2 linked regions of the Homo sapiens genome follow. The protein of the gene in region 2 interacts with the protein of the main gene of each other region in a pairwise test. Each region holds a gene or a part of one and is shown on either strand. Other genes may lie near its edges.

The links.
Region 1: the proteins of WFDC3 (region 2) and GET3 interact in binary tests that used the Homo sapiens proteins (3 or more experiments, as listed by UniProt).

What each region holds. Positions count from the first base shown.
Region 1 is NC_000019.10:12,731,984-12,745,636, forward strand, and holds the start of GET3 (ATPase GET3), read left to right. Parts: upstream 1-5,513; 5' UTR 5,514-5,522; coding exon 5,523-5,683; intron 5,684-6,527; coding exon 6,528-6,675; intron 6,676-13,393; coding exon 13,394-13,542; intron 13,543-13,625; coding exon 13,626-13,653. Other genes in the region: TRIR (telomerase RNA component interacting RNase), read right to left, coding at 2,330-2,674.
Region 2 is NC_000020.11:45,769,668-45,785,276, forward strand, and holds the end of WFDC3 (WAP four-disulfide core domain protein 3 precursor), read right to left. Parts: intron 7,543-15,609; coding exon 7,408-7,542; intron 5,936-7,407; coding exon 5,750-5,935; intron 4,778-5,749; coding exon 4,761-4,777; 3' UTR 4,546-4,760; downstream 1-4,545.

The sequences.
Region 1 (13,653 bases), on a different chromosome or scaffold from region 2:
AGTGGTGGTAGGCGCCTGTAATCCCAGCTACTTGGGAGGCTGAGGCAGAAGAATTGCTTGAACCTGGGAGGAGGAGGTTGCAGTGAGCCGAGGTTGCACCATTGCACTCCAGCCTGGGCAACAAGAAGTAGACTCTGTCTCAAAAAAAAAAAAAAAAAAAGAAAAGAAAAAAAGAACCACCCCCTTTTCATAGATGAGGAAAGTCTTTCAGGAGAGGTCATGCTAACAACAAACAATGGAGCTGATTCAGGGTCAGGTGGGTCGAAGCCTCTGGACAGCATCCTTAGACATCAAGCAACATTGCCTTCCCTGTGCCTAGCCTGGCATGGCCTCTTTGAGGGTGCAGCCAAAATGGCCCCTCAATGAACAAATGAAAAAGATGCAACGACGACTGCTACTCCCATTCATGAAGGGACTCCACTCGCAGGTATCACACCAACCCTGGTCCTGACGCTTTTCCTTCCTTACCCTTGCCTCAAAGAGTCTTCCTCTAGCCTTTCATCCTGTATCCCACCTTCTCCCATTGATTGAGGGCTTCCTGCGCTCCAGGGGCTCCAACAGTCTTCACAGACAACCAGGCATTCAGTAACCTGTGCTGCTGGGACTATTTCCATTTTTTTTTTTTTTTGGAGACAGAGTCTTACTGTCGAGGCTGGAGTGCAGTGGCATGATCTCAGCTCACTGCAACCTCCACCTCCCAGGTTCAAGTGATTCTCCTGCCTCAGCCTCCCGAGTAGCTGGGATTACAGGTATGCACCACCATGCCTGGCTAATTTTTGTATTTTTAGTAGAGTCAGGGTTTCACCACGTTGGCCAGGCTGGTCTTGAACCCCTGACCTCAGGTGATCTGCCCGCCTCGGCCTCCCAAAGTGCTGGGATTACAGGGATGAGCCACAGAGCCTGGCCTGCTGGGATTATTTCACACCGATTTTTTTTTTAAGATACTCTCTTGTTCTGTCATCCAGGCTAGAGCGCAGTGGTGCAATCATGGCTCACTGCAGCCTGAATCTCCTGGGCTCAAGCGATCCTCCTGTCTCAGCCTCCTGGGTAGCTGGAGCTCCAGGCATGTGTGGCACCATGCCCAGCTAATTTTTTAATTTTTTTTTGTAGAGATGCATTTTTGCCATATTGTCCAGGCTGGTCTCCAACTCCTGGGCTTAAGCGATCCACCCACCTCGACCTCCCAAAATGTTGGAATTACAGGTGTGAGCCACTGCACCCAACCCACGCCCATTTTTAACAAATGAAGAAACTGAGGCTTGCAGAGGTTAGATCATTTGCCCAAAATCACATGCTGGATCCAGAACTAGAGCCCCCAGTCTTGTTATTCTCAACACTTTTTCCTCCACACTACAGGGACTTGATCTTAACACCACAGACATGGCAAGCTCAGAGCCAAAAATCAATATATGCCCTATTTACTTAATCCAGAGTTTCTCAACCTGGCACTAATAACATTTTGAGCTGGATTATTCTTTGTTTGGGGGTGGGAGGGCGCTGCCCCACGCATGGTAGGAAGTTGAGCAGCATCCCTGGCCTCTACCCATAGATGTCACTAGCACCCCCTCCCGCAGTTCTGACAACCAAAAATGTCTCCAGACTTTGCCAAATGTGGGGGTGGAGGGAACTGCCCCAATTGAGAACCACCAGTTTAGCCCTTCCTGGAAGACAGGCTCTGTGCTAACCACTTTTCCAGGATCACCTCATAAAACCCTCACCACATCAAGAGATGCTATGATGTCTATTTTTGCAACTAGGGAAAATGAGGGTAGGCAAACCCAGAGGCTCCAGGAAAGCAGCGATCTTGTCTGTAAGCTCACCACTGCATACCAGCACCTAGCACAATGCCTAGCACGAGGTAAATTGCTCAATAAATGGAGGTTGGTCGAATAAGATACAAGGAAGTCAAGCAATTGTCCTAGATAAGTAATTGTCCTTACATAGTACGTGGTCTGAGTCTAACACATATAGCTCAGAGTCCAGACTTAAATTTACTCCCTTTCCTCACAATTAGTGGTGGTCCCATGACCCAAGGTCCGGGTACCACTCAAACAGGAATCCTGATATCCACGTTTCCTCATTCTCCACAGTGCTGATTCCTAGGCAATTCCTCAGCTCCCAGTTCCCACGGGCAAGCTCCTGGAGTCCCCACTCCCGCCCCTAGACCCCAGTTGTCGGGAATCCAAGTTCCACACCCTCAGCGGGTGACCCGGACGGGCCCCTCATTCAGAACGGAAAGTGGACTTCGGTCCCGATCCCCCTTCACGGGCCCCGACTCCCGCTGCCAAGACAGGCCGTGGCGCCCGCCCCCACCCCCACGGCTCCTTACGAAGCTAAGTGTGGAGCCCGGACCGCCCTTCCTCTTCGGATCCCCGGGGCCAGCGGCGGCGGCCGACTGGTCGGGTCGCTGCGGACCCGGGGGCGGCTCCTCCTGCCGCTGCCGCTGCTCCTCCTCCATCTTCCGCTTGAACAGCTCCAGGAAGCTGCCGTCGTTGGCGAACAAGTTCACGCCGCCCGACACCGGGCTCGAACCCGCGCCCGACACCTCCTCGTCCCCGCTCTCGGGCGACGTCCCCGATCCCGACTCAGCCCAACGGCTCCCGCCACCGCCACCGCCCGCGGGGCCCGGAGCCTCCCGGCCCTGAGGCTCCGCCCGTCTCCCTCGGGCAGCCATTTTGTCGCCAGGTGCCGCGCAAAGGACTCCGGGAAGGCCGCTCCGGCCCCGCGCTTGGCGCCCGACTCGCCTCGTCCCGAACAATGCATGCCGGGAAGAGCGGTCAGGCCCTCCAGCGCCCGCAGCGGGGGCGGGGCGAATGAGGGAACCAACCCGAAGGGGCGGGGCTAGGGGGAGGAGCCCCCGTCTCGCGGGTTTTTTTGTTTCGTTTTTTTTTTTTCTTTTTTTTTCAGACGGAGTTTCCCTCTTGTTTCCCAGGCTGGAGTGCAGTGGCGCGATCTCGGCTCACCACAACCTCCACCTCCCAGGTTCAAGCGATTCTCCTGCCTCAGCCTCCCGAGTAGCTGGGATTACAGACATGCGCCACCACGCCCAGCTAATTTTGTATTTTTAGTAGAGACGGGATTTCTCCATGTTGGTCAGGCTGGTAATCTCCCGACCTCAGGTGATCCGCCCGCCTCGGCCTCCCAAACTGCTGGGATTACAGGCATGAGCCACCGCGCCTGGCCTTGTTTTTTAAAAATTAGAGACGGGCGCCTGGCTATATTGCCCAGGCTGGTCTCGAACTCCTGGCCTCAAGCGATCCTCCTGCCTTGGCCTCCCCTCCCAAAGTGTTGGGATTACAGGCGTGAGCCATCGGGCCCAGTCTTGCTGTTTTGGTTTTTGGTTTTTTGTCTTGTTTTGGAGACAGAGTCACACTCCGTCTCCGAGGCTGGAGTGCAAAGGCATGATCAGGGCTCACTTCAGCCTCGACCTCTCAGGGCTGAGGCGATCCTCCCACCACAGCCTCCCGAGTAGCTGGAAACACAGGCATGCGCCACTACGCCTGGCTAATTTTATTTATTCATTTATTTATTTATTTATATTTGTGGAGACGGGGTTTTGTCATGTTGCCCAGGCTGTTCTCAAACTCCTAGGCTCCAGCAGTCCTCTTACCTCAGCCTCCCAAAGTGCTGGGATTACAGGCGTGAGCCACCGAGCCCTGCCTCTCGGGTTTTCAAAATTCAGCAGTACTCAGGCTGGAGTTCCCCATACAGGGGCTCCCGGAGAATGAGACTGTCGTCTGAGACTGGGGCTGTAGCTTGCTCTCTGGAGTTGGTTTCACTTGGGGCTAGGAACAGATTCGCTTTCCAGGGCTAGAATCCCCGTCTGACGACACCAAGAATAATCTCTATGAGTGGAAGGACCTCATCTGGGGCTGTGTGCTCAGCTGACACCTGGGAACTTGAATCCCTAACTGGGGAATAGAGAGCATGTCTAGTCTGGGCCCCCCAAGTAGAAATAGGGGTATCTTTGGGTTGGGTAACCATCTCTGGGATAAAGCTCACATTTGTTGGGGACATAGCTGGCTCTGTGGAGCTGAAGTCCCCGTCTGAGAATCAGCTTACTTTTTTATTTTATTATTGTTATTATTACTTTATTTTATTTTGTTTTATTTTATTTTTTGAGACGGAGTCTCTCTCTGTCGCCCAGGCTGGAGTGCAGTGGCGTGATCTCGGCTCACTGCAACCTCCGCCTCCCGAGTTCAAGCGATTCTTCTGCCTCAACCTGGTCTCGATTCCTGACCTCGTGATCTGCCTGCCTCGGCCTCCCAAAGTGCTGGGATTACAGGCGTGAGCCAACGCGCCCAGCCTATTTTATTTATTTATTTAGAGACGGAGTTTCACTCTTTCACCCAGGCTGGAGTGGAGTGAAGTGGCGCAATCTCGGCTCGCTGCAACCTCTGCCCTCCGGGTTCAAGCGATTCTCCTGCTTCAGCCTCCTAAGTAGCTGGGATTACAGGCGCGTGCCACCACGCCCGGCTAATTTTTGTATTTTTAGTAGAGACAGGTTTTCACCATCTTGGCCAGGCTGGTCCCGAACTCTTGACCTCAGGTGATCCACCCGCCTCAACCTCCCAAAGTGGTAGGATTACAGGCGTGAGCCACCGCGCCCGGCCCGAGAATCAGCTTATTTTATGAGCTGTAGTATTCAGATGAAGTCGGGGTTATTTCTAGTCTGTAGTCTCCCTCTAAAGTTAAGAGTGTCATGGGCTGGGGTCTCCATCAAGGGCCTGGAACCCAGCTTCTGTTCCTGCTCTAAGACAGAGGTTCAAACATGAAATATGGTATACTGGAGTCTTCTCTTGAAATACAAGGAGACTTTTAGGAATTCCTTCTACGAAACGGAGCGCAATTGCAGGAATGGTGTCTGCTAGGCATGGGAGATCAGGGCGTACAGGACAAGACTCTGTGGACTCGCCCACTCTAAGCCACTATCAGCCCGGGGACCTATCGCCAACCGAGTCAATTCGTCTATGATTGGTTTGCGGCAAGAGCCAAGAGGCTCACAGCCTATTGAATAACAGAGGGGGCGGACCTGAGGTGAGGTTGGGACCTACCGTGAAGAATAGAGGGAAAATGATGGACATAAAGTTGAGCCTATGGAGTCAGGCCAAGGAGGACCGGGAATCTAACTTCACCGAAAGGGCATGGACTGGGTGTTTGGCTGGTTGCTAAGGTGAGGTTGGCGCTACCGGAACATAAGAGTGATTGGTGTAAGTAAGAAAAGACATAGCCAATGAAAGGAGAGCTGCAAGACCTAGGGCCCAATCAGTGAAAGGGAGTAGCCTAGACCGTACCGATGTGTTCATTAGGTAGGGGGAACCCTTGGAAAATTATAGACCAGAGGTTGACAAAGTGAACCCTGGAAGCAAAGAATAGTGAAAATATAATTTATATTTCTCCTAAAAGGCAAGTAATGAGGAAATTAACTCATGCTCCTAGCTTCGCTAGGAATGTGATAGAGAATTTCCCCTGTAGGTTCTTCGTATGGTGCGCTCCGCTGGATCACGTGAGCCAGTTCCAAAATGGCGGCAGGGGTGGCCGGGTGGGGGGTTGAGGCAGAGGAGTTCGAAGATGCTCCTGATGTGGAGCCGCTGGAGCCTACACTTAGCAACATCATCGAGCAGCGCAGCCTGAAGTGGATCTTCGTCGGGGGCAAGGGTGGTGTGGGCAAGACCACCTGCAGGTAAGGAGGCTGCGGCGGGGGCCAGGAGGCGTGTAGGATATACCACTGGGCGAAGGGGAGGCCAAGGACCGGCTTTTCCACCACGACCGGGGCATGGGGGCTGGCGGGGGTCTTTGGGTTTCACTCTCTGGAAGTTACCTGGAGCAAATGAGAAAGACCTCAATGCAGCCCTAGCACCCTCTGAGTTGGACCATCCGTGTTGGGGCTCAAGTGCCGAACCACAGTGAACTCAGCGCCCGGGGGACGGGGAAGCACTTAGATATCCCCATCAGCTGGACCGTACCTGAGTGAATCCAGAGTTGTGGGTGAGGGCGGCACCAGAACAAGCAATCCTAGTTTGGTGAACCTTGGTGTTTTATGCCCAAGGCGAGAGTGAGGGTGGAAAGCGAGGGAGAGAGCACGTGATGAGACTGTCCCAGGCAGCTACAGGCAGGAGGTGTCCGTTGGACAGATTATCCTGGACAAGCAGACTGAACCATCCTGTGCTTACTAGGGAATGCAGGAGACCCCTTAGCTTATTAAGGAAGGGGGCACGGAGTCAAGCTATGCTGGCTGGACCGCTGGGCCATGCCACTGTGCCCAGCAAAAAAGAAGCAGGCACTAGGCCAGACAGACTCAGTCAGCTGAACCTTACCTCTCTAGTCCACATAGAGGGGTCAGGAGATAAATCAGAGAGGGTTCCTTTGTAGGGACTGAGGCTCAATCCCACCATAACCCATACTCTCCTCTCAAGGCCCCTGCTGATTCGGGTCACCTGCTCCAGGGAACCTACCACTCCCCTTGCAGACCCAGGGAACAGAGCCCATCCCCTCATCCCCTATCTTTTGACTTTTCCATTACTCAGCTGCAGCCTGGCAGTCCAGCTCTCCAAGGGGCGTGAGAGTGTTCTGATCATCTCCACAGACCCAGCACACAACATCTCAGATGCTTTTGACCAGAAGTTCTCAAAGGTGCCTACCAAGGTCAAAGGCTATGACAACCTCTTTGCTATGGTGAGTGGAACAGGGCTTAGCCCCCACTTCTGGGAAAAGCCTCTTCCAGCCTTTCTTGTGCGCACACACCAGCAGCCACCGTGTCCTATCCACTCTATATCCTGTGTCTCTCGTGTTTCACTCCTTCCTCAACATACTCACAAGGGAACCAATGAGGAATTGCAGAGCAGGAAGCACACCAGAGTGCCTGAAGCTTAGTGAGCCAGGGTAGGGGAAGGAGAAGTTGGAGAGACCAATCAGAGCCACATGGTGTGGGACCTTATGGGCCACTAAGAAGTTTGGCATTGACTCCAGGTTATTAACGGGAAGCTGTTTGTTTTAAGCAGGGCAATGTCGTGGCCAAATTCATGTTTGAAAAGTACCCTTTGACGGCCAGGTGGAGATTTAATTGTCAGTCAGGGTAGAAGCAGGGAAACTAACAAGGAGATTGGGGGTGTAACCAGTTGAGAGATGACAACATCCTGGACTCTGGTGGAGGCAGAATGTTGGGGGAGAAGTAGTCAGACTTGAGGTTTTTTTTTTTTTTAGACACTCAAGACTCCTCTGTCTCCCAGGCTGGAGTGCAGTAACCCGATCTAGGCTGACTGCAACCTCCGCCTCCCAGGTTCAAGCAATGCTCCTGCCTCAGCCTCCCGAGTAGCTGGCACTACAGGCTTGCGCCACCACTGCCTGTTAATTTTGTTTTTTTTAGGAGACAGGTTTTCACCATATTGGCCAGGCTGGTCTCAAACTCCTGACCTCAAGTGATCTGACTGCCTCGGCCTCCCACAGTGCTGGGATTACAGGCATGAGCCACCACATCGCACCAGGGATGTATTTTGGAAGTAAACCAGTAAGATTACTTGGGTGAGAAAAAGAAATGAATTGATTACATGTCTTTCTTGTCTCTCTGAGCAGCTGGGATGGGGAAAACTAGGAAAGGAGTAGGTTTAGAATGAACAAATAAAGAATTTCATTTTGTCCACAGTGAATCTGAGTTGCCCACTGGAAATCCAAGTGTAAACATCATGACAGTAGCTTGTTTATGTGAGTCTGGAGCCCAGAGGAGGTTGGCATTGATTTGGAAGTCACTGTCTCAAGGGTGGCATTTAAAGCTGTGTGAGGGCTGGGCATGGTGGCTCATTCCTGTAATCCTAGCACTTTGAGAAGCCAAGGTGGGCGGATCACTTGAGGTCAAGAGTTTGAGACCAGCCTGGCCAACATGGTGAAACCCCATCACTACTAAAAATATAAACCAATTAGCTGGGCATGGTGGCAGGTGCCTGTAATACCAGCTACTCAGAAGGCTAAGGTAGGAGAATCGCTAGAACCCAGGAAGCAGAGATTCTCCTGCCTCAGCCTCCGGAGTTGCTGGGATTACAGGTGCCTACCACCATGCCCGGCTAATTTTTGTATTTTTAGTAGAGACGAGGTTTTCTCACGTCTCAAAAAAAAAAAAAATTGGCTGGGCGCAGTGGCTCACTCCTGTCATCCCAGCACTGTGGGAGACCGAGGCGGGTGGATCACAAGGTCAGGAGATCAAGACCCTCCTGGCTAACACGGTGAAAGCCCATCTCTACTAAAAATACAAAAAATAGCTGGGCATGGTGGCAGGCGCCTTTAGTCCCAGCTGCTCAGGAGGCTGAGGCAGGAGAGTGGCGTGAACCCCGGAGGCGGAGCTTGCAGTGAGCTGAGATCGCGCCACTGCACTCCAGCCTGGGCGACAGAGCAACACTCTGTCTCAAAAAAATAATAAAGGCCGGGCACGGTGGCTCACATCTGTAATCTCAGCACTTTGGGAGGCTGAGGCGGGCAGATCACAAGGTCAAGAGACTGAGACCATCTTGGCTAACACGGTGAAACCTCATCTCTACTAAAAATACAAAAAAATTAGCCAGGTATGGTGGCGGGCACCTGTAGTCCCAGCTACTCCGGAGGCTGAGGCAGGAGAATGGCGTGAACGCGGGAAGTGGACCTTGCAGTGAGCCGAGATCGCGCCACTGCTTTACAGCCTGAACAACGGAGCGAGACTCAACAAAAAATAATAAATAAAAATAAAATAAAATAAAGAGATGCTGCAGAGTGAGGATGCTGGCAGAGGACAGTCCTCAGGTGGGATGAGCTCCATCCAGCATACAGACCCAGAACTTGGGCGCTGCCAGGGTCAGGGACTGGGAGGGAAACAGGAGGAATTGGGGCACTTCCCGGGCAGAGATGAGGGTGTTGGCAGCCAATGGCTTCTCTTTCTCACCAAGGAACAGGCAAGGGTCTCAGCAGTGAATGGGATAGAAGTTTGAGGAGGGAGAAAATACCACATAAACACTTATTAAGGTAGCAGGGGGAACCAGAATTGTCTGGATCATCAAGTGCCCATTGGAGATTTGTGTTCAGAAGAGGGGAGCAAGGGCGGGCGTGGTGGCTCATGCCTGTAATCCCAGCACTTCGGGAGGCTGAGGCAGGTGGATCAGAAGGTCAGGAGTTAAAGACCAGCCTAGCCAAGATGGTGGAACTCCATCTCTACTAAAAATACAAAAATTAGCTGGGCATGGTGGCTCACGCCTGTAATCCCAGCACTCTGGGAGGCCGAGGTGGGCGGATCACAAAGTCAGGAGATTGAGACCAGCCTGGCTAACAGGGTGAAACCCCATCTCTACTAAAAATACAAAAAGTTAGCCGGGCGTGATGGCGGGTGCCTTTAATCCCAGTTATTCGGGAGGCTGAGGCAGGAGAATGGCGTGAACGCGGGAGGTGGAGCTTACAGTGAGCCTAGATCGCGCCACTGCACTCCAGCGTGGGTGACAGAGCAAGACTCCATCTCAAAAAAAAAAATACAAAAATAAGCCAGGCACGGTGGCTCACGCCTGTAATCCCAGCACTTTGGGAGGCTGAGGCGGGCAGATCACCTGAGGTCGGGAGTTCGAGACCAGCCTGACCAATATGGTGAAACCCCGTCTCTACTAAAAATACAAAAATTAGCCTTGCGTGGTGGCCGGCACCTGTAGTCCCAGTTACACGGGAGGCTGAGGCAGGAGAATTGCTTGAACCTGGGAGACGGAGGTTGCAGTGAGCCGAGATCATGCCACTGCACTCCAGCCTGGGATACAGAGCGACACTCCATCTCAAAAAAAAAAAATTAGTTGGGCCTGGTGGTGGGCGCCTGTAATCCCAGATACTCGGGAGGCTGAGGCAAAGAATTGCTTGAACCTGGGAGGCGGAGGTCACAGTGAGTCGAGATTGTGCCACTGTACTCCAACCTGGATGACAGAGCGAGACTCCGTCTCCAAAAGGGTGAGGAGCAAGATGGGAATACTCTTCAGGAGTGTTCGGCCCTCAAGTGCAGTGATACTAAAGAGCTAGAAAGCCATACCTATCATTTCAGTGCTTGCAGAGACTGAGACAAGAGGATCACGTGAGGTCAGGAGTTCAAGACCAGCCTGGGCAACAAAGGGAGACCCTTTCTCTACAAAAAACAAACAAAATTAGCTGGGCATGGTGGTGTGTGCCTATAGTCCCAGTAAGTTGGTAGGTTGAGGCAGGAGGATCATTTGAGCCTAAGAGTTTGAGGCTGCAATGAGCTATGTATGAGATGGTATCTTTTTTTTTTTTTTTTTTGAGACTGAGTTTCACTCTGTCACCCAGGCTGGAGTGCAGTGGTGTGATCTCAGCTCACTGCAACCTCTACCTCCTGAGTTTAAGCGATTCTCCTGCCTCAGCCTCCCAAGTAGCTGTGATTACAGGCGCCCGCCACCACATCCGGCTAATTTTTGTTTTGGGGGGGTTTTTTTTGTTTGTTTTGAGACGGAGTCTTATTCTGTCGCCCAGGATGGAGTGCAGTGGCGCAATCTCGGTTCACTGCAACCTCTTCCTCCCGATTTCAAGTGATTCTCCTGCCTCAGCCTCCCGAGTAGCTGGGACTCCAGGTGCATGCCACCATGCCCGGCTAATTTTTAGTATTTTTAGTAGAGACGGGGTTTCACCATGTTAACCAGGATGGTCTCGATCTCCTGACCTCGTGATCCACCCGCCTTGGCCTCCCAAAGTGCTGGGATTACAGGCGTGAGCCACCGCGCCTGGCCTGTATTTTTTTTTAGTAGAGACGGGGTTTCAACATGTTGGCCAGGCTGTTTTCAATCTCCTGACCTCAAATGATCTGCCTGGCTTGGCTTCCTAATACACTGGGATTACAAGTGTGAGCTACCGCGCCCGGCCAAGACGCTATCTCTAAAAGAAAGAAAAAAAAAGCTGGAAGTAACCAGAGTGGGGGATTTTGCCAACAGCAAGGGGAAAGGGAGTGTTTGCAGAGGGAACCTGTGGAGGCTGGGCTGGATAAGGGTGCCAGCCAAGAGGAACACTGACAGTTTACAGGGGCCAGGTGAGGGGATGAAGTAGTCCAAAGAAGCTTAAAATATATGAAGCATAAGAAGAGGGTGCAGTGATGAGTGGGCAAGCTCCCCAACAGGGAATGACCCCTAAGGCCAGCGAGTTGGGTACTTCCCCATGGGACCCATGAAGTTACCAAGAAGAGGTGACAGAGGAGGAAGATAAAGAGGGAGGCATTGGCCGGGCATGGTGGCTCATACCTGTAATCCCAGCATTTTGGGAGGCTGAGGTGGGTGGATCACCTGAGGTTGGGAGTTGAAAACCAGCCTGACCAACATAGAGAAGCCCCGTCTCTACTAAAAATACAAAATTAGCTGGGGTGGTGGCGCATGCCTGTAATCCCAGCTACTCAGGAAGCTGAGGCAGGAGAATCACTTGAACCCTGGAGGCGGAGGTTGCAGTGAGCCAAGATCACGCCATTGTCCAGCCTAGACAACAAGAGTGAAACTCCATCTCAGAAAAAAAAAAAATTACAAAAATTAGCCAGGCATGGCCAGGCGTGATGGCTCGTGCCTGTAATCCCAGCACTTTGGGAGGCCGAGGTGGGTGGATCACGAGGTCAGGAGATCGCCACCATCCTGGCTAACACAGTGAAACCCCGTCTCTACTAAAAATACAAAAAATTAGCCAGGTGTGGTGGCGGGCGCCTGTAGTCCCAGCTACTCACTGCACTCCAGCCTGGGTGACAGAGCGAGACTCCATCTCTTTTTTTTTTTTTTTTTTTTTTTTGAGATGGAGTCTCGCTCTGTCGCCCAGGCTGGAGTGCAGTGGCGTGATCTCAGCTCACTGCAGGCTCCGCCCCCTGGGGTTCATGCCATTCTCCTGCCTCAGCCTCCCAAGTAGCTGGGACTACAGGCACCCGCCACCTCGCCCGGCTAATTTTTTGTATTTTTAGTAGAGACGGGGTTTCACCGTGTTAGCCAGGATGGTCTCGATCTCCTAACCTCAGGTGATCTGCCTGCCTCGGCCTCCCAAAGTGCTGGGATTACAGGCGTGAGCCACCACGCCCGGCCAAGACTCCATCTCAAAAAAAAAAAAAAAAAAAAAAATTAGCCAGGCATGGTGGGGCATGCCTATAGTCTCAGCTACTCGGGAGGCTGAGGCAGGAGAATTGCTTGAACCCAGAAGGTGGAGGTTGTGATGAGCTGAGATCGCGCCACTGCACTCCAGCCTAGGCAACAAGATCAAAACTCCATCTCGGGAAAAAAAAAAAAAAAAGAGGGAGGCATTGAGTCTGAGACTGGCCAGGGACCCCAGCCATGGCCATCCCTTCATAGATTCTACATACATGTTTGTGTTTTGTTTTGTTGTTTGTTTTTTGAGACAGAGTCTCCCTCTGTCACCCAGGCTGGAGTGTAATGGCGTGATCTCGGCTCACTGTAACCTCTGCCTCCCGGGTTCAAGCGATTCCCCTGCCTCAACCTCCAGAGTAGCTGGGATTATAGGCACCCGCCACTATGCATGGCTAATTTTTGTATTTTTAGTAGAGACGGGGTTTCACCATGTTGGCCAGGCTGGCCTCAAGCTCCCGACCTCAGGTGATCTGCCCGCCTCCGCTTCCCAAAGGGCTGGAATTACAGGCATGAGGTACCGCGCCTGGCTGGATTCCCCATATGTGCTGACGACCTCTGTGCCAGGCACTGTTCATGCTAAGCGCTAAGGACACAGCAGTGAACTAGATGGTAAAACCCCTGCCCCTGAGGGGCAGACATTCCTGCTATGGAGACAGATGATAAACATGATAAGGGAATCATGAGGGATGTGAGGAAGGGCTAATTTTTTTTTCAGATAGGTCTTGCTATATTGCCCAGGCTGGTGTCCAACTCCTGGGCTCAAGCGATCCTCCCATCTCATTCTCCTGAGTACCTGGGACTACAGGCGTGAGCTATCCTGCCCAGCTCCTAAGGGCTAAACCTTAAGGAGAAAGGAAGGCAGGGCAGGGGTGTCGGTGGATCTGTGCTGTTACTTAGGGTGGTCAGGGAGTCTCTCAGTGGAGGGATGATGATCCGGAAGAGGTCATGGCCCAGTCATGGGAGTATCTGGGGTTGCAAGTGGCAGGTTGCAAGTGGGGAGTAGCAGTGTAAATGGCCCGCAGTGGGTTTCAGCTTCCCTTTGAGGGCCCTGGGCACAGCTTGCAATTTTCCCCTTGTTTTTGACCCTTTATGCAACCATACAAAACCCTAAGTACTACCTCAGGGTCCCCCCAGCCGTGACCTAATGAAATGCCTGTGGTCACAGCCCACCACAGGCTCCCTCTGGCCCTGTGCCCGGGTAGGAAGGCTCCCCCTGGCCCTGTGCCCAGGTGGGAAGGCTCCCCCAGCAGTAGCAGCAACCTCAGTCTCATCCCTTTGGCCCCCAGGAGATTGACCCCAGCCTGGGCGTGGCGGAGCTGCCTGACGAGTTCTTCGAGGAGGACAACATGCTGAGCATGGGCAAGAAGATGATGCAGGAGGCCATGAGCGCATTTCCCGGCATCGATGAGGCCATGAGCTATGCCGAGGTCATGAGGTCAGGCCCAGCCAGCAGGGGTGGGGGCTGCCTGGGGAAGGGGAAGAGCGGACACAGAGGGCCTGACCCCTGTCTCCCCTCAGGCTGGTGAAGGGCATGAACTTCTCGGTG
Region 2 (15,609 bases):
GGAACTTAATACTATAAAACAGCCAGGTGCAGTGGCTCACGCCTGTAACCCCAGCACTTTGAGAGGCCAAGGCAGGTGGATCATTTGAGGCCAGGAGTTCGAGACCAGCCTGGCCAACTTGGTGAAACCCTGTCTCTACAAAAAATACAAAAATTAGCTGGGCATGGTGGTGCGCATCTGTAGTCCCAGCTACTTAGGGAGCTGAAGCAGGAGGATCACTTGAACCTGGGAGGTCGAGGCTGCAGTGAGCATGATTGCACCACTGCACTCCAGCTTGGGAGACAGAGTGAGACCCTGTCACAAAAAACAACAACAGAAAATAAAATACTACAAAACAAGTTACATGAAAATGAAAGTCTTTAAACCAAGAGTGAAAAAAGGTAGGGGATCCAGGCGCAGTGGCTCACACCTGTAATCCCAACACTTTGGGAGGCCAAGGCATGCAGATCATGAGATCAAGAGATCAAGACCATCCTGGCCAACATGGTGAAACCCCATTTCTACTAAAACTACAAAAGTTAGCTGGGTGTGGTGGTGGGCGCCTGTAGTCTCACCTACTCAGGAGGCTGAGGCAGGAGAATCGCTTGAACCTGGAAGGTGGAGGTTGCAGTGAGCCAAGATTGCACCACTGCACTCCAGCCTGGTGACAGAGCCAGACTCTGTCTCAAAAAAAAAAAAAAAAAAGGTGGGGGAGGACAAGTAATAAAAGAGGGTGGCAAGAAGGATCGATTTTGTCAGAGAAACTGAATAACAACAGCTAACATTTATTGAGTGTGTGCTTTGTGCCAGGCTCTGCTAAGTGCTTTCTTTATAATCTTTTTTTTTTTAGACGGAGTCTCCCTCTGTGGCCTAGGCTGGAGTGCAGTGGCACGATCTCAGCTCACTGCAGCCTCCAAATCCTGGGTTCAAGCAAGTCTCCTGCTTCAGCCTCCCGAGTAGCTGGGACTACAGGCGTCCACCACCATGCCCAGCTAATTTTTGTATTTTTAGTAGAGACGAGGTTTCACCATGTTGGCCAGGGTGGTCTCAAACTCCTGGCCTCAGGTGGTCGACCCACCTCGGCCTCCCAAAGTGCTGGGATTACAGGTGTGAGCCACTGCACCTGGCCAGTGCTTTCTTTATAATGGACTCTTCACACCAATTCTATGAGGTAGGCAGTGTGGTAATGTTATTATACACACAAAGCTGATAAGCAGCACAAGATTATAGATTCAGACCCAGGCCTTACTCCGAAACCTGAGCTCTTGGCACCCTGGTAGCCAATGCGAAGATGGAAACATCAGCTCTAGAAAGCCCCTACCACAGAGTCTGGAAAGACAGACGATGCCCAGTAAGTTATTTCCCTGCCCATTCTCACACTAACTCAGAGGGAGAAACTTTTTCTTGATCTTGAGCTCCACAGGGAATTTGACCCTGTGGCTTTGTACAAGAAACACTAATACGACATAGTGGGTAATGTCCCCCATATCAATGTTACCAGAAATGAAGCAGCATGCCACATCATATGAAAACAGAGGGCATAATGTTAGGTCTTAATTTATTAAGTGCAGTTCAGTCGGGATCCAGGAGCTTAGACAGCTGATAGCAAGCTTTCACTTTATCTTTTAGAATGCCCTTTTGCCCTTTTGAGTCTCTTGCCTGGAAATGGTCTATGACAGACCTCTGCTGCCCTCTGGTGGGCAGAGCATGAAGCACCCAGCAAAGAATTCTTTCCAGTCACATGGCCTCTTCTTTGTTTATATTGCTGAATCTGTGGGAAGCTGGGCTTCTCCACACAATCCCTTGAGGAGAAGGCTTAACTTGTATATGAAAGGAAAGACACCTCTCCCAACTCAAGAGCAACCCACTGCCAGGATACGCTCTGGGCCTCCTGCCTTCCTCACCCCACTTACACGCCTTACCAATAACATCATGCCCCCACGGGAGCAGTGGAGGCTGCAGGGGCCCATGGTATTGCTGGGGCCAAGGGCACATATGGAGTCTGAGATTTCTACAACCAGATGGTCAAGAAGCAGGGTGGAGAAGGGAGGAGCTGCGTGGTTCTGGTCAAAGAACAAGTCTTTCTCAGCCTACACTGGAGCCCCAGACATTCCTGCCCACGATGAGGAAGCTGAGGAGCAGGGCGGGGGAGAAGGGTGGCTTTTCAACCTGGTCAGAGGCTAATTTCGGGGTGCAAGGTGAGAGAGTAGGATCACGGTCCACTGAGACCTGCTCCTGGGTCATTTCCACCCCAGGACCAAGGCTGAAATGGACTTAAACCCTGAGGAAGGAAAGGTTCTAATGGCTTCTTTAGTTCAGGGTCCAACAGTAGAGAAAGCTGCCCAGAAAGACCTGGGGGTGGGAATTTGGCCCCAGCTCAGCCTTTAACCGCCAGCTTTCAAATTTAACCCTTCAGCACTCTCTCTCATCTCTATCTCTCTCTCATCTCCATCTCTATCTCTCTATACATCTATCTATCTCTCTATCTCTCTCGACGTTGCTACCTGTAAGCAGGTCAGCAGCTCCCTCTGGAAAGGGTGAGCCTCCAGACGAGGAGGAAAGGTCTGCAAGGAGCAGCTCTCCCATTGCTCAGCCTGAGCTGTGCCTGGGGCTCACACCTGTCTCTCCAGTCCCACTCTCCACCCTGACAGAACATCATTCTGCAATATGAGAGGATTCCCAGACTGTTGTTTTTCATTGAAAGTTCTACCATACTGATGATTTTTTTTTTTTTTTTTTTTTTTGAGATGGAGTTTCGCTCTTGTCGCCCGGGCTGGAGTGCAATGGCAGGATCTCGGCTCACTTGGAACTTCCACCTCCCAGGTTCAAGCAATTCTCCTGCCTCAGCCTCCTGAGTAGCTGGGATTACAGGCGTGCACCACCAAGCCTGGCTAATTTTTGTATTTTTAGTAGAGACGGGGTTTCACCATGTTGGTCAGGCTGGTCTTGAACTCCTGACCTCAAGTGATCTGCCTGCCTTGGCCTCCGAAAATGTTGGGATTACAGGCGTGAGCCACTGCACCCGACCACTGCTGAGTGTCTGTGCCTTCTCCCCCTTGTTTTCATCCTGGCATGTGAAATTCTGGTTTCTACCTGGTTCAGAACATTTATCTCTTTTCAGTACAGTAGACATGTCAATGTTGCCTGATCTGAAAAAGAGTGGCTGGCATGAACCTCGCAGTGGCCAACCCAGAAACATCCATGACTCCAGGATCATGTTGCAGGGAACTGGGAAGGGCCAGTGTCTGTGTGATGGGCTGCTGAACATTTTGGCAGATCCCTCTTCCACTGTTTTATCATTTTGTTGTTTATTTAAAAACTCGAATACATGCACATAGTTTTTTTAAAAATCATTATATCATCACACCACCACACCCGGCTAATTTTTGTATTTTTAGTAGAGACAGGGTTTCTACTAAAACAGTCAAAGGCACAGCTACTCAGAAGGCTGAGGTAAGAGAATTGCTTGAGCCCAGGAGGCGGAGGTTGCAGTGAGCGGAGATCGTGCCACTGCACTCCAGCCTAGGCGACAGAGCAAGATTTCGTCTCAAAAAAAAAAAAAGATAACTAGTTAAATAAATTACCCATTTCATAGAGTTCTATTAAAAGAATATACGTGATGACATGAAAGATCTCCAAGATACACAATATAATCCATTTCATATAAATAAAAAACATAACTTTAAAAAATTATCTTGGTCCCAAGAACCTAGGGATATCCCCTCCCTAAAATAAAGCTACCTGGAGGGGACAAACTGCCTGTCTTGGAGCCAAGGGCTGGCCCTCAAGGAAGGAGGTCCAAGGTGGGAACATTCCAACATCTATAAGAAACTAGCCACTCGGCTGGGCACAGTGGCTGACGCCTGTAATCCCAGCACTTTGGGAGGCCAAGGCAGGCAGATCACCTGAGGTCAGGAGTTCAAGATAAGCCTGGCCATCATGGTGAAACCCCGTCTCTACTAAAAATACAAAAATTAGTCAGGCATGGTAGCGCGCCTGTAGTCCCAGCTACTCGGGAGACTGAGGCAGGAGAATCACTTGAACCTGAGAGGCAGAGGTTGCAGTGAGCCAAGATTGCGCCACTGCACTCCAGCCTGGGCAACAGAGTGAGACTACATCTCAAAAAAAAAAAAAAACTAGCCACTCACCCTTGTTCCACCCTCAACCCACATTCTCCAATAAAAGAAAGAAGGTCAGCAGGTCTAAAAGAGACTGACCTCCACCCCCACCAGGGCTTGAGAAAGACATCTATGGCAAGTCACTCTCAGTTTAGTTTCCACCCTCAACCCACATTCTCCAATAAAAGAAAGAAGGTCAGCAGGTCTAAAAGAGACTGACCTCCACCCCCACCAGGGCTTGAGAAAGACATCTATGGCAAGTCACTCTCAGTTTAGTTTCCACCCATCTCTTCCCTAGCCACACCCAACCAAAACCCATTTTCAGTGTCCTCACAAAGAATGGATTACCCATCTGTCCTAAATATGTAAATCGTACAATCCCACAGGCACACACATACCCTCTAGCTCTCCCATATCATCTGAGCCCTCAAATAGCACAAACAAGAGGTCAGCACCAGCCTTTATCGGGAAAGAGAAGCACCACACACCCACTACCCAATCCAGGGCTATTTCCCATGCTCTGGTCAGCGGCAGGAGGAGAAGCAGAGCAGAGAGGGCCATGAGTGCCCCTGGAAATGTCACAAGCCCCAGGATGTCACCCTCTCTTGACTGCCAGGAAAAGCTTCCAGAATTACCAAAGAAGCTCCAGACAAATCAGCACAGCTAGGGCACCGGGATCTCTGCAAGTAGAAGAAACATCAAGTCACAGCTGTGCCCTCCTGGCTTCAGCTACCTGAAATGTTTTCCCTCCACCCTAGGAAAGCTTGGCCTATATTGCTCTCAAAAGTCTTAAATAGCTCCTTGCTTCCCAGACAATCCAATCCAAACTGGCACTGAAGGCTCTTATTATTCAGATGTCAACCTTGTATCTCCTGTTATAAAAAACTGGAATTATGGTCGGGCACAGTGGCTCATGCCTGTAATCCCAGCACTTTGGGAGGCCAAGGTGGGTGGATAACCTGAGATCAGGAGCTCGAGACCAGACCTGGCCAACATGGTGAAACACTGTCTCTACTAAAAATACAAAAATCAGCTAGGTATGATGGCAGGCGCCTGTAAATCCCAGCCTTGGGAGGCTGAGGCAGGAGAATTGCTTGAATCCAGGAGGCAGAGGTTGCAGTGAGTCGAGATTGTGCCATTGCACTCCAGCCTGGGTGACAAGAGTGAAACTCCATCTCAAAAAAAAAAAAAAAAAAACTGGAGATACGTCTGTTCCTTTACCCACCCTGCCCCCACTCCTCACCTCCCAAACATATCCCACACATTCCCACCCTGTGTTCCTTTGCCAGCAATCACCAGATTGCCTATCTGGCATGTCCCTGTGCTATCCTCCCTTTGTCGCATCTGCCTAGCCTTAAGCACCTCAATCAAATCCCACCTCTCCCACAGAGACCTTCCCAGGGAGCCACACCTGGGAACAGGTGTAAGCCTGTACTGTTTATATGAGGGTTCTCATCTGGGACACAGGTTTGCCACACCTGAGAACAGGTGTAAGCCTGTACTGTTTGTATGAGGGTTTTCATCTGGGACATAGGTTCTTTCTCTCCAACTAGACTTTTCCTGACCTTCTGAAGTCCCCTTCCCAGCACCTAAGCCAGTGCTTTGCACATAGCAGTTGTCTGTTATTGTTGATGACAATGGACTGTACTCACCTAATTCGGAATCAGACCTCACAGTCCAGTTGGGGTTCATGGTCAGTTTTGGGGGCAGGACTGGTGGGACACAGAAGCGGCCACAGCCTGACTTGCAACATTTTTCTCCAGCTTGACAATTCTCATCCATCACACAGCCAACAATGCACAGGCCCACCAGAACTTTTGGACAATCACCGCCCCGCCCTGTGGGAACAACAGGCACAGGAAAAGGGACAGGGCATCAGCTCTGCCATCTCCATGTTCCCATCGTGAACTTACACACAGAGGCTCTAGGTCAATCAACCCCTGACCCTCACTAGACCCAACTAAACTGGCTGGGAAACCATGGCGCTGGAGGATCTCAGAATCTTTAGGAACCCAAGAGACCTCTGAGCCCAGAGTTTTCAAATGGTGCCCCAAAGGGAGTTCCCAAGAGGTAACTCAGGGATTGACACCTCTGCAGGTTTGGGGTGGGGGTGGGTGAAGTGTGGCAGGGGCAAGCCTCCCAGACCACTCCCCCTCCCCCTATGCTCTGGATTCATAGTGTCACTTCTTCACGGTGGCCTCCTCTGCCACCCTAGACAAGGTTTGATGTCCCTGCTTTGTGCTCCTGTAGCACCCTGTATGCTTCCTCTCATCAAACTTTATCATAATCCCTTATTTAAAAGGAATATGTCTATCTTGCCTGATGGGCTATAAGCTACATACGGACAAGAGTCTGTCCTCAGCCTTGAGCACTGCCTGGGAATCTAAAGGGACTAAGATAGCACAAGGGTCAATGATTCTTTAATGGAGATCCACAGTGCCTGGCACTCAAAAATATTTGTTTTTTTAAAATGTTGAAGAAAAAAAGGCATTGGAACAGGAATGCTTTTATCTCTGTGTGTGTGTGTGTGTGTGTGTGTGTGTGTGTGTGTGTGTGTTTCCAGCTGGGCGTGGTGGCTCACGCCTGTAATTCCAGCACTTTGGGAGGCCGAGACAGGCAGATCACGAGGTCAGGAGTTCAAGACCAGCCTGGTCAACATGATGAAAACCCATCTCTACTAAAAATACAAAAATTAGCTGGGCATGGTGGCGTGTGCCTGTAATCCCAGCTACTCAGGAGGCTGAGGCAGAAGAAACCCCAGAGGCAGAGGTTTCAGTGAGCCAAGATCACGCCACTACACTCTAGCCTGGGGTACAGACCAAGACTCTGTCTCAAAAAAAAAAAAAAAGAAAAAAAAGAAAAAAAAAAAAAATATATATATATATATATATATATATGTGTGTGTGTGTTTCCAACTAAGATTTCATTTGGGGCAGGGGAGAAGCTTTTTGTTAAAAATTAGATCTGAAAATCAGGATCTTGGGCAACTCCTTCATTTTACAGATAAAGAAATTTGGGCTCAAAAAGACGGGTTTGCTTACCTAAGGTCACAAAGCAAAACCTCAGCAGAATCAAGACCAAAAGCCACACTGTCTGTCTTCCAGCCCAAGTAGTTCCTACTGCCCCACAGTGCCTTCCCCCAGTTCTTTTAATGTCGACAGGGCCCCTCGGCCCTAGAAGAATGGGTTGCTTTGGGTTGGGGGACCAGAGGGACAGGAAGGATGAGAATCCTAGCTCCTCCCAGGAAGGGAAAGAGAAGCACTCTTCTCAGGAAACACTCAAGGATTTCTTCCCAAAAGAGCCAACATACCTCCCTCAATGTCTCCGAGGCAGGTGCGGCCACAGCCGGTGCTGCAGCATTTATGCCCCTGGGGACAGGATGCATCCCCATCACACAGCTCCTCACACGGAAGGGGGTCAGCGGGACATTCACCACCAAACTCTGCTACATAATCAAAGCATTGGAGCCCAGAGACGCTCACAATATGAAACACATTTTTCATTGTGTCCCATGTGTATGTTTATATATAGTTATATATTTATATACATATATAATGTAAATATTTATGTGTATCATGTATCTGCAATACATCTGATTTTTTTTAAGACAGGGTCTCACTGTGTTGCCCAGGCCAAAGTGCAGTGGCATAATCATAGCTCACTGCAGCCTCAAACTCCTGCATTCAAGGGATCCTCCCACCTCAGCCTCCTGAGTGGCTAGAACTACAGGCACATGCCATCATGCCTGGCTTATTTATTTATTTATTTTGTAGAGACAGGGTCTCACTGTATCACCCAGGCTAAAGTACAGTGGCACAATCATAGCTCATTGCAGCCTGAAACTCCTGTGCTCAAGGGATCCTCCCACCACAGCCTCCTGAGTACCTGGGACTAGAGGCACAAGCCACCAGGCCTGGGTAATTTTATTTATTTATTTTGTAGAGACAGAGTCTCACTATGTTCCCTAGGCTGATATCAAACTCCTGGCTCAAGTGATCCTCCCGCCTGAGCCTCCCAAAGTGCCAGGATTACAGGCGTGAGCCCCCCCACCCAGCCCACCCTGATATTTTATATTCTAGTTCTTATTTTTCCTAATTACTAAATTGCTTTCAGGACTCACAGTTTGAAAAACACTGTTCAGGTCTAACCCACTGTGGCCAACATTCTCCCTGAATTCTCCCTGTGGCAGACATTTACAATGGTGGCCTCCAGTGAACTTTACCTCCTGGGATTCAGGCCCTTTTGTAGTCCCCTTCCATACCTACTCTGGGTTTGACCATCTGACTTGCTTTGACCAATGGGACATTAGCAAATGTAATGTAAGCAGAGCCTTGATAAGCACTAGCATACTGGGGCTTGTCCACTCAGAATACTTCCTCTTGGAAACCAGCCGCCATGCTATAAAGCAGCTTGAACTACGCTATGGGATGATGAGATGCCCCATGGAGACAGAACCTAGAAGAGAGGTCATCCTGGACGTTGTGGCTCCAGTTGAGCTCCCTGCTAAGCTCCCAGATGAATGCAGCTAAATGAATGACCACAGCTACATCATGTGGGTATATGAACTGCCCAGCCAAGCTCAGGCAACCTACACAACTGTGAGAAAGAGTAACTATATTGCTTTAAGTCATGAAGTTTGGAGATGGTTTCTTATGCAGCAATAGATACTGGATACCAAGTTTATTCTGAGAGGCAACAGGTCCAGCTAAAATGATTTGTTTCCCCATACTCTCTTGCAACAAGGGGTGACCACAAACTAGGACATAAACTGGGAAACTTTTGTATTCCTGACACAGGGAATACCCCTTTCAAACTGCTCCCTCACTTCTTTCTTCTTCCAGTCCAAAGATAGACATTACACAGAGAGGCAGAGTAGCCTTCTTTCAATGAGGAGGCAACTCAGCATAACGAAATGGTCAAGAATTGCAAAGAGGTGTTGTATGAAAGGAGAGAAGGTTAGCACTCCCCTCGACAAGGATGGAAGAGGCCTTTGGGCCTGACAACATGCATATGGTTCAAGCATTGCCACCTACTTTGTGGCATCTAACCATCGTCTTTTAAAATAAATAAATAATAAAATGTAAATGTAAAAAAAAAAAAAGAATTGCAAAGGAGAAAGAGGGAAATAGTTTCATCCTTGTTAGCATCATGGAGCCACCATCCCAGCCTCAGGAATTCTTGTTATATGAGAAAAACAAACCCCTATATGATTAATTTTCTGTTGTGTGCAGCCAAACACATTTCCTATGAAAATAAACTCAGAGAAGAATCTTGCCCAGAACTACAGAGTGAGTCAGCAGCAAGGCAGGACAACACTCAGCCTCTTGATTTGCGGTAAAGTACTTTTTCTACTACACTATCCTTAAAACATGCAGGCAACTGGCCAGGGCCCCAGGCGCAGGCACACCCAAAGAAGGCCACATCCAAACCAAACCAATTCACCATGACTCATTCATCTTAGTGTTTATTTCAAGCTTCTTAAGTAAAGAGAAAGGTGACAGGCAATTAAAGATTTCGCAGAAAACCAAAGCAAGACTGGCCCAGTGCCTCTGAGTAGGAACAGGTAAGTATGATTGCATACAGCTGGCTCTGGGAAGTCTGCCATGATGGAAAAAGCAAGTATTGGAATCCAAGGAGAATACATGCAGCTAAACAACCCAGGCGTAGTAACCCTGTATCCTGAGATTTTCCTGAACAGCCCCTATTTCAAATATCCTGTGCTACTGTGAGATCACATCAAAACTATGTGTCCTGATTTTTGACTCAGAAAATGTGGTCACTGTAACCACCAAATGCATCTCCCTGCACCTCCCCACCTGCTTGACAAACACTGAAATCCATTTAACAAGGAACAAAAGCCTTCTATCTCACAGCTGAGAAGGCTGGGAGTAAAAATCTCCCTGGTGGAAAAACCCGGTGACATAAACATCTCATAAAATTATGCCATGTGCCCTAGAAACTGGGAGTGCCATACGTCCCAGATTTCACCATTTTGCTGAGCTTGACCTTGAGATGACCAATGCCAGGAGCTCTCTGCTACTCTCTGCCCTCGTCCTCAAGACCAGGCATGGAGCACTTACCTCTACCCTTTTCCAGGCCAGGCTTCCTGGAGGCCCAGAGGGTCACAGCACCTCGCTTTTGACCAGTGCCCAGCAATGCCACCCAGTCTGACACCCTGCCTTATATGAATCCCTGCCACGTGATCCCTTTCTCTCAGCTCTAACACCTGGAATTAATGGGGCCTCACTACCTCCAAGCCAGATTATGCTATCCTACTTAAGCTAGACAGCCTTTATACCTTTTTTTTTTTTTTTTTTTTTTTGAGACAGGGTCTCGCTTTGTCACCCAGGCTGGGGTGCAGTGCCGCAATGGTGGCTTACTGCAGCCTCAAACTCTTGAACTCCTGGGCTCAAGCAATCCTCCAACCTCAGCCTCCTGAGTAGCTGAACTATAGGCACACACTACCAGGCCCAGCTAATTATTTTTATTTTTTATAGAGACAGGGTCTCACTATGTTGACTAGGCTTGTTTTGACCTTCTGGCCTCAAGCAATCCTCCCGCCTCAGCCTCCCAAAGTGCTGACGTCACAGGCATGAGTTACCATGCCTGGCCCTTTGTACCTCTTTATACTGACCTGAAATCTGGCTGGGCCTTTTCCTATCCCCAGAGACCTTACAAAAACCTGGCGGATGCCATTCTTTCAGGCAGGATCCTCTGTCTTTCACGATCCTGGCTTTGCCATGCTAGGTAAGGTCAGTTCCTCATAAGACATGCTCCCTAATCACCTCACAATTAGCTTACCAGGAATCAGGAAGAGAAATAGGAACAGTAGCCAGAATGGGGATGACGGTTCCCCACCCTCTATCAGCACCCATCCCAAGACTCTAAGCTATCACCAAAAAAGGAGTGAAGCTGAAGCCCAGGAAATACTCACTCACAGTCTGTCCTGCTGCCTCAGCTCCAACCTGCCACTATGTCTGAGAGAAAGATGCCAGTTGTTGTTGGAAAAGTAAAATTTCAGCACTTCTTAACCCAAGAAGGGCCCTCTGAGCTAACAAACTTACTCCCCTTCTCTTGTAAATAGAGAGACAGACAACTAGAGAGAGGGATTGGCCTGAGGTCAATGGTAGCAGAACTGAGTCACAAATCCCCAGCTCTGATATAAGGTCTCATGCCCTTTAAACCACATCATGGGCCTGGCTCAGTGGCTCATGCCTGTAATCCCAGCACTTTGGGAGGCCAAGGTGGGTGAAACACTTGAGGTCAGGAGTTCAAAACCAATCTGGCCAACATGTTGAAACCCTGTCTCTACTAAAAATACAAAAAAAAAAAAAAAAAGCCGGGTGTGGTGATGGGTGCCTGTAATCCCAGCTACTGGGGAGGCTGAGGCAGGAGAATTGCTTGAACCTGGGAGGCAGAGGTTGCAGTGAGCCGAGATCACACCACTGCACTCCATCCTGGGTGACAGAGCGAGACTCCATCTCAAACACACACATAGACACACACACACACACATCATCATGATCCCCTACACTGCAGCAAGGATCACACAAAAACCAAGAAGCACTGGGACTCACTCTGCCCAGTTCCACCAAAAGAGAAGATCCAGTGGTAGATAGTTTTAGAGGTTAGGAAAAGTTATCCACCAGTGTGTAGGCAGTCCTCAAGACCACTTACTTCCAGGTTCAGTGATTCATTAGCAGGACTCAGCGTATAGTCATACCCATGGCTATGATTTATTACAGCAAAAGGATACAAAGAAAAATCATCAAAGGGAAAAGTCCAGAGGAAATCAGGTGCTGATTTTCAAGAGTCCTCCCGGTAGAGTCACAGGATGCACTTAATTCTTCCAGCATGGAATTATGACATGTGTGAAGTGTTTTCTACCAGGGAAACTCATTAGACACTCACTGTGAAAGTTCTCTACTGGGGGCTGGTCACTTAGGCACCCTCTGCCTAGCACGTACCAAGATTCCAGACTCTCAGAAGGAAAGCAGATGTTCAGCCTAAACCACAATGTTTACACAAACAGTTTAGGCACAGTGAACCACTCTTATCAGTTAGAGTAGTACAAATACCCACAAAATCCAAGTTCCCAGAAGCCAGCCAAGGCCCAGCCTTGCCAGCAAGCCTTTTTAAGAAGAGCGGTCTCAGGCTTGTTATGTTAACTCTTTTCTGTACAACCTGCAGTGAGGTTTTAGAAAAGGGTCAGCCAGACACCCAGGGAGGCCATGCCATCAGCCCACGTAAAAGATAATACATATATGTTAATAAGCAAAACAGAGGGTCACAGGGGATCTGGAGTGGTCAGGTTTCATACAGTGGGGAGGTGAGCCATGAGGAGGCCCAAGAAGACAACTGTCAGGCCAGAATCAGAATCTTCACTCCAAAACCTCTTCCCCCAGGTTGTCCCTGTCTCAGTAAAGAACACCACCATCACCCAACTGCTCAAGCTGAATATCTACCACCCTTCTTGATACCCCGTCTCCCTCAATGCCTGCAGCCACTTACTTGTTCACCCAGTCCCATTAATTCTACCTTCACAAACATGTAAGCCTTCCATTTTTCTTTTTCATTGTTATTGGTTTTTTGGGGGCTTTTTTGTTTTGGATTTTTTTTTTCTTTTTTTTGAGATGGAGTTTCGCTCTTGTTGCCCAGGCTGGAGTGCAGTGGTGCGATCTCGGCTCTCTGCAACCTCCACCTCCTAGGTTCAAGCGATTCTCCTGCCTCAGCCTCCCGAGTAGCTGGGATTACAGACGCCCACCATCATGCCCGGCTAATTTTTGTATTTTTAGTAGAGATGGGGTTTCACCATGTTGGCCAGGCTGGTCTCAAACTCCTGACCTCGTGATCTGCCCGCATTGGCCTCCCAAAGTGCTGGGATTACAGGCATCAGCCACTGCGTTCGGCCGCCTTCCATTTTTCTATGTCTGCAGTATCTCCAACCCAGTCTAAGCCCCGATCATCTCTCCCAGCCTGCCACAATAGCCTCCTAACTGGTCTTCCATCTTCTACACTTGCCCCCATCCATTCTTCATATACTGGCAGAGTGGTCTTTTTAAAATGAAAACTGGACAAGGCCTCTCCTGCTTTTAAACCCCCTCAAAGGCTTCCTATTGCACTTAGAATAAAGCCTAAGAGAGAAGCCCTGAAGACCCCCGAAAGTCTGGGCCCTGCCTACCTCTCCAACCTCAAATGAAAGCAGCCTCCTTCTCTCTTCTTCCTTTACCTTCAAAGCACTCATGACTCATCATCATCTTGGGGTTATTATGTATTTGTTTTCTTGATTATTTCCTGTCTGTCACACTATATGAGCAAGCCCCAGGGTGGCAAGGACCACGGCTGCCTTCCTCACCACTGCAGACCCACATGCCAGGTAGGGTAGCCACACTCAATATACAGTGAATACATGAATAAGTGGGTGAGTAAACGGATAGGTCAGGCATCAGATAGGTGGGGAGGCAGAGAAGGGGCGGACCAGAACACAGAGGTACTTGGCATGACCATATGAGCTCTCTTGAGCATTATCTGGCAGGTTTACTGCAGACTTTTTTAAATGCATTTCTGGCCGGACACAGTGGTTTGTGCCTGTAGTCCCAGTTTCTCAGGGAACTAAGGCAGAAGGATCACCTGAGCCCAGGAGGTTGAGGCTGCAGTGGGCTGAGATCACACCACTGCACTCCAGCCTGGGTGATAGAGTGAGACCTTGTCCCAGATAAATAAATAAATAAAATGCATTTCTTCTCAACTGCATTATCACTCTGGGAGCTAAACATCCTTATCCCCATTTTACAGATAATAAAAGTGAGATTCAGAGAAATGAAGGGACTTGCCCAAGGCCACACAGCAAGCAAGCAGAAGAGCCAGGATTCAGACCCATGTTCAGACTAGAACAGTGTCATGAGAGCAGGACCCAATGTCTGCCCTTGCCCTCAGGCAACCTGACTGAACCTCCACTTTGCCAAACAGACCAGCGCTGGCTATGGTAAACCTCTGGCAATGTCAGAGCTTAAGGAAAGCGAAATTTTTCATAGCCCTGGAAGGAGAGCTTCCTGTAGAGTTGGGTATAGCAACCAGTCCTGTTGGGTGAGTAGCCTAGCCCTCCCCTAGGGCTGGAGCTATACAAAAGTAGTTAACTACCAATGCAGTAGCCAGTATCACCTCCCACCAGGCTAGGAACCCCGCTCAGCCCAGCAGGCTCTGGGACATCTGCGGGAGATCACTATTCTAGCCTGCCTGCCAAGCTCCAGTGGAAAAGGAAGCCCTATCTGGGCTGGCCAGGGGCCAGAGCAGCTCACAAAGGTACTGTGCCTGGGTGCCAGCCTCGCCCTTAGCCCCTACAATTCAGCCCTCAGCTTCAAACACTGGGAAGATTGTACCAAGCCCTACATGCCAGCAGTCAGTGACCTGCCTGAGACAGATTCCCAGGCTGGTTCCAGAGCTGGGCCTCAAGAGTCCTGGCAAGGAGAACAACCTTCCATTCTCTCTAATGGGCAGGCTGCCCAAGATAGCTGCCTAAGCCGGGCACAGACAGACCCAATGGGTACCAGCAAGGGGCCTCCTACCTGGAGAGGTTTGACTGGAAGGAAAAAGGTTGTCACATGTTACAGGGCTTCAGGTTCTGAGAGGAAGTGATCAGGGAAGAAGAAAACCATCCTGGTTTTGAATAAAGGGGCTGGTGAGAAATTGTACTCCTGCTGGGCATGGTGGCTCACACCTGTAATCCCAGCACTTTGGGAGGCCAAGGCCGGTGGATCACCTGAAGTCAGGAGTTTGAGACCAGCCTGACCAACATGCTGAAAAGCCGTCTCTACTAAATACAAAAAATTAGCTGAGCATAGTGGCACATGCCTATAATCCCAGCTACTTGGGAGGCTGAGGCAGGAGAATCGCTTGAACCTGGGAGGTGGAGATTGCAGTGAGCCGAGACTGCACCACTGCACTCCAGCCTGGGCAACAATAGCGAAACTCAGTCTCAAAAAAAAGAAATTGTACTTCTGACCCAGGCCACTTAGGAGGCAAGAGGAAGGAAGTTAATATATACTGAGGGCAAAACACTTTACATAATTTGAATAATTACAACAAGCCTTCGAGGTTTATTCTTCCCACCTTACAGAGAAGGGAACTAAGGCTCAAAATTACTTGCCCAGGGACCTGCTGGCCAGTAACTGGCAAACCTCAGGCTTGAACCCAGGACTCCGACAACCCAAACCTAGGATTTTCCACTCTAACATCCACCACATGCACTCAGATAAGAGAATGATTCCAGTTCCTTTAGAAAACATAATGAGAAATATTCAAAACAGCAGAGAAGAAAATAAAATACCTAGGCATAAATTTATGGAGAAATATTTTAACACTATAAAACACCCTGAAATATGCAAAATACACTTGATCAACAGGGAAGGCATAGGATTCAACATAGGCCAGGCACAGTGGCTCATGCCTGTAATCCCAGCATTTTGGGAGCCAAGGTGGGCAGATCACCTGAGGTCAGGAGTTCGAGATCAGC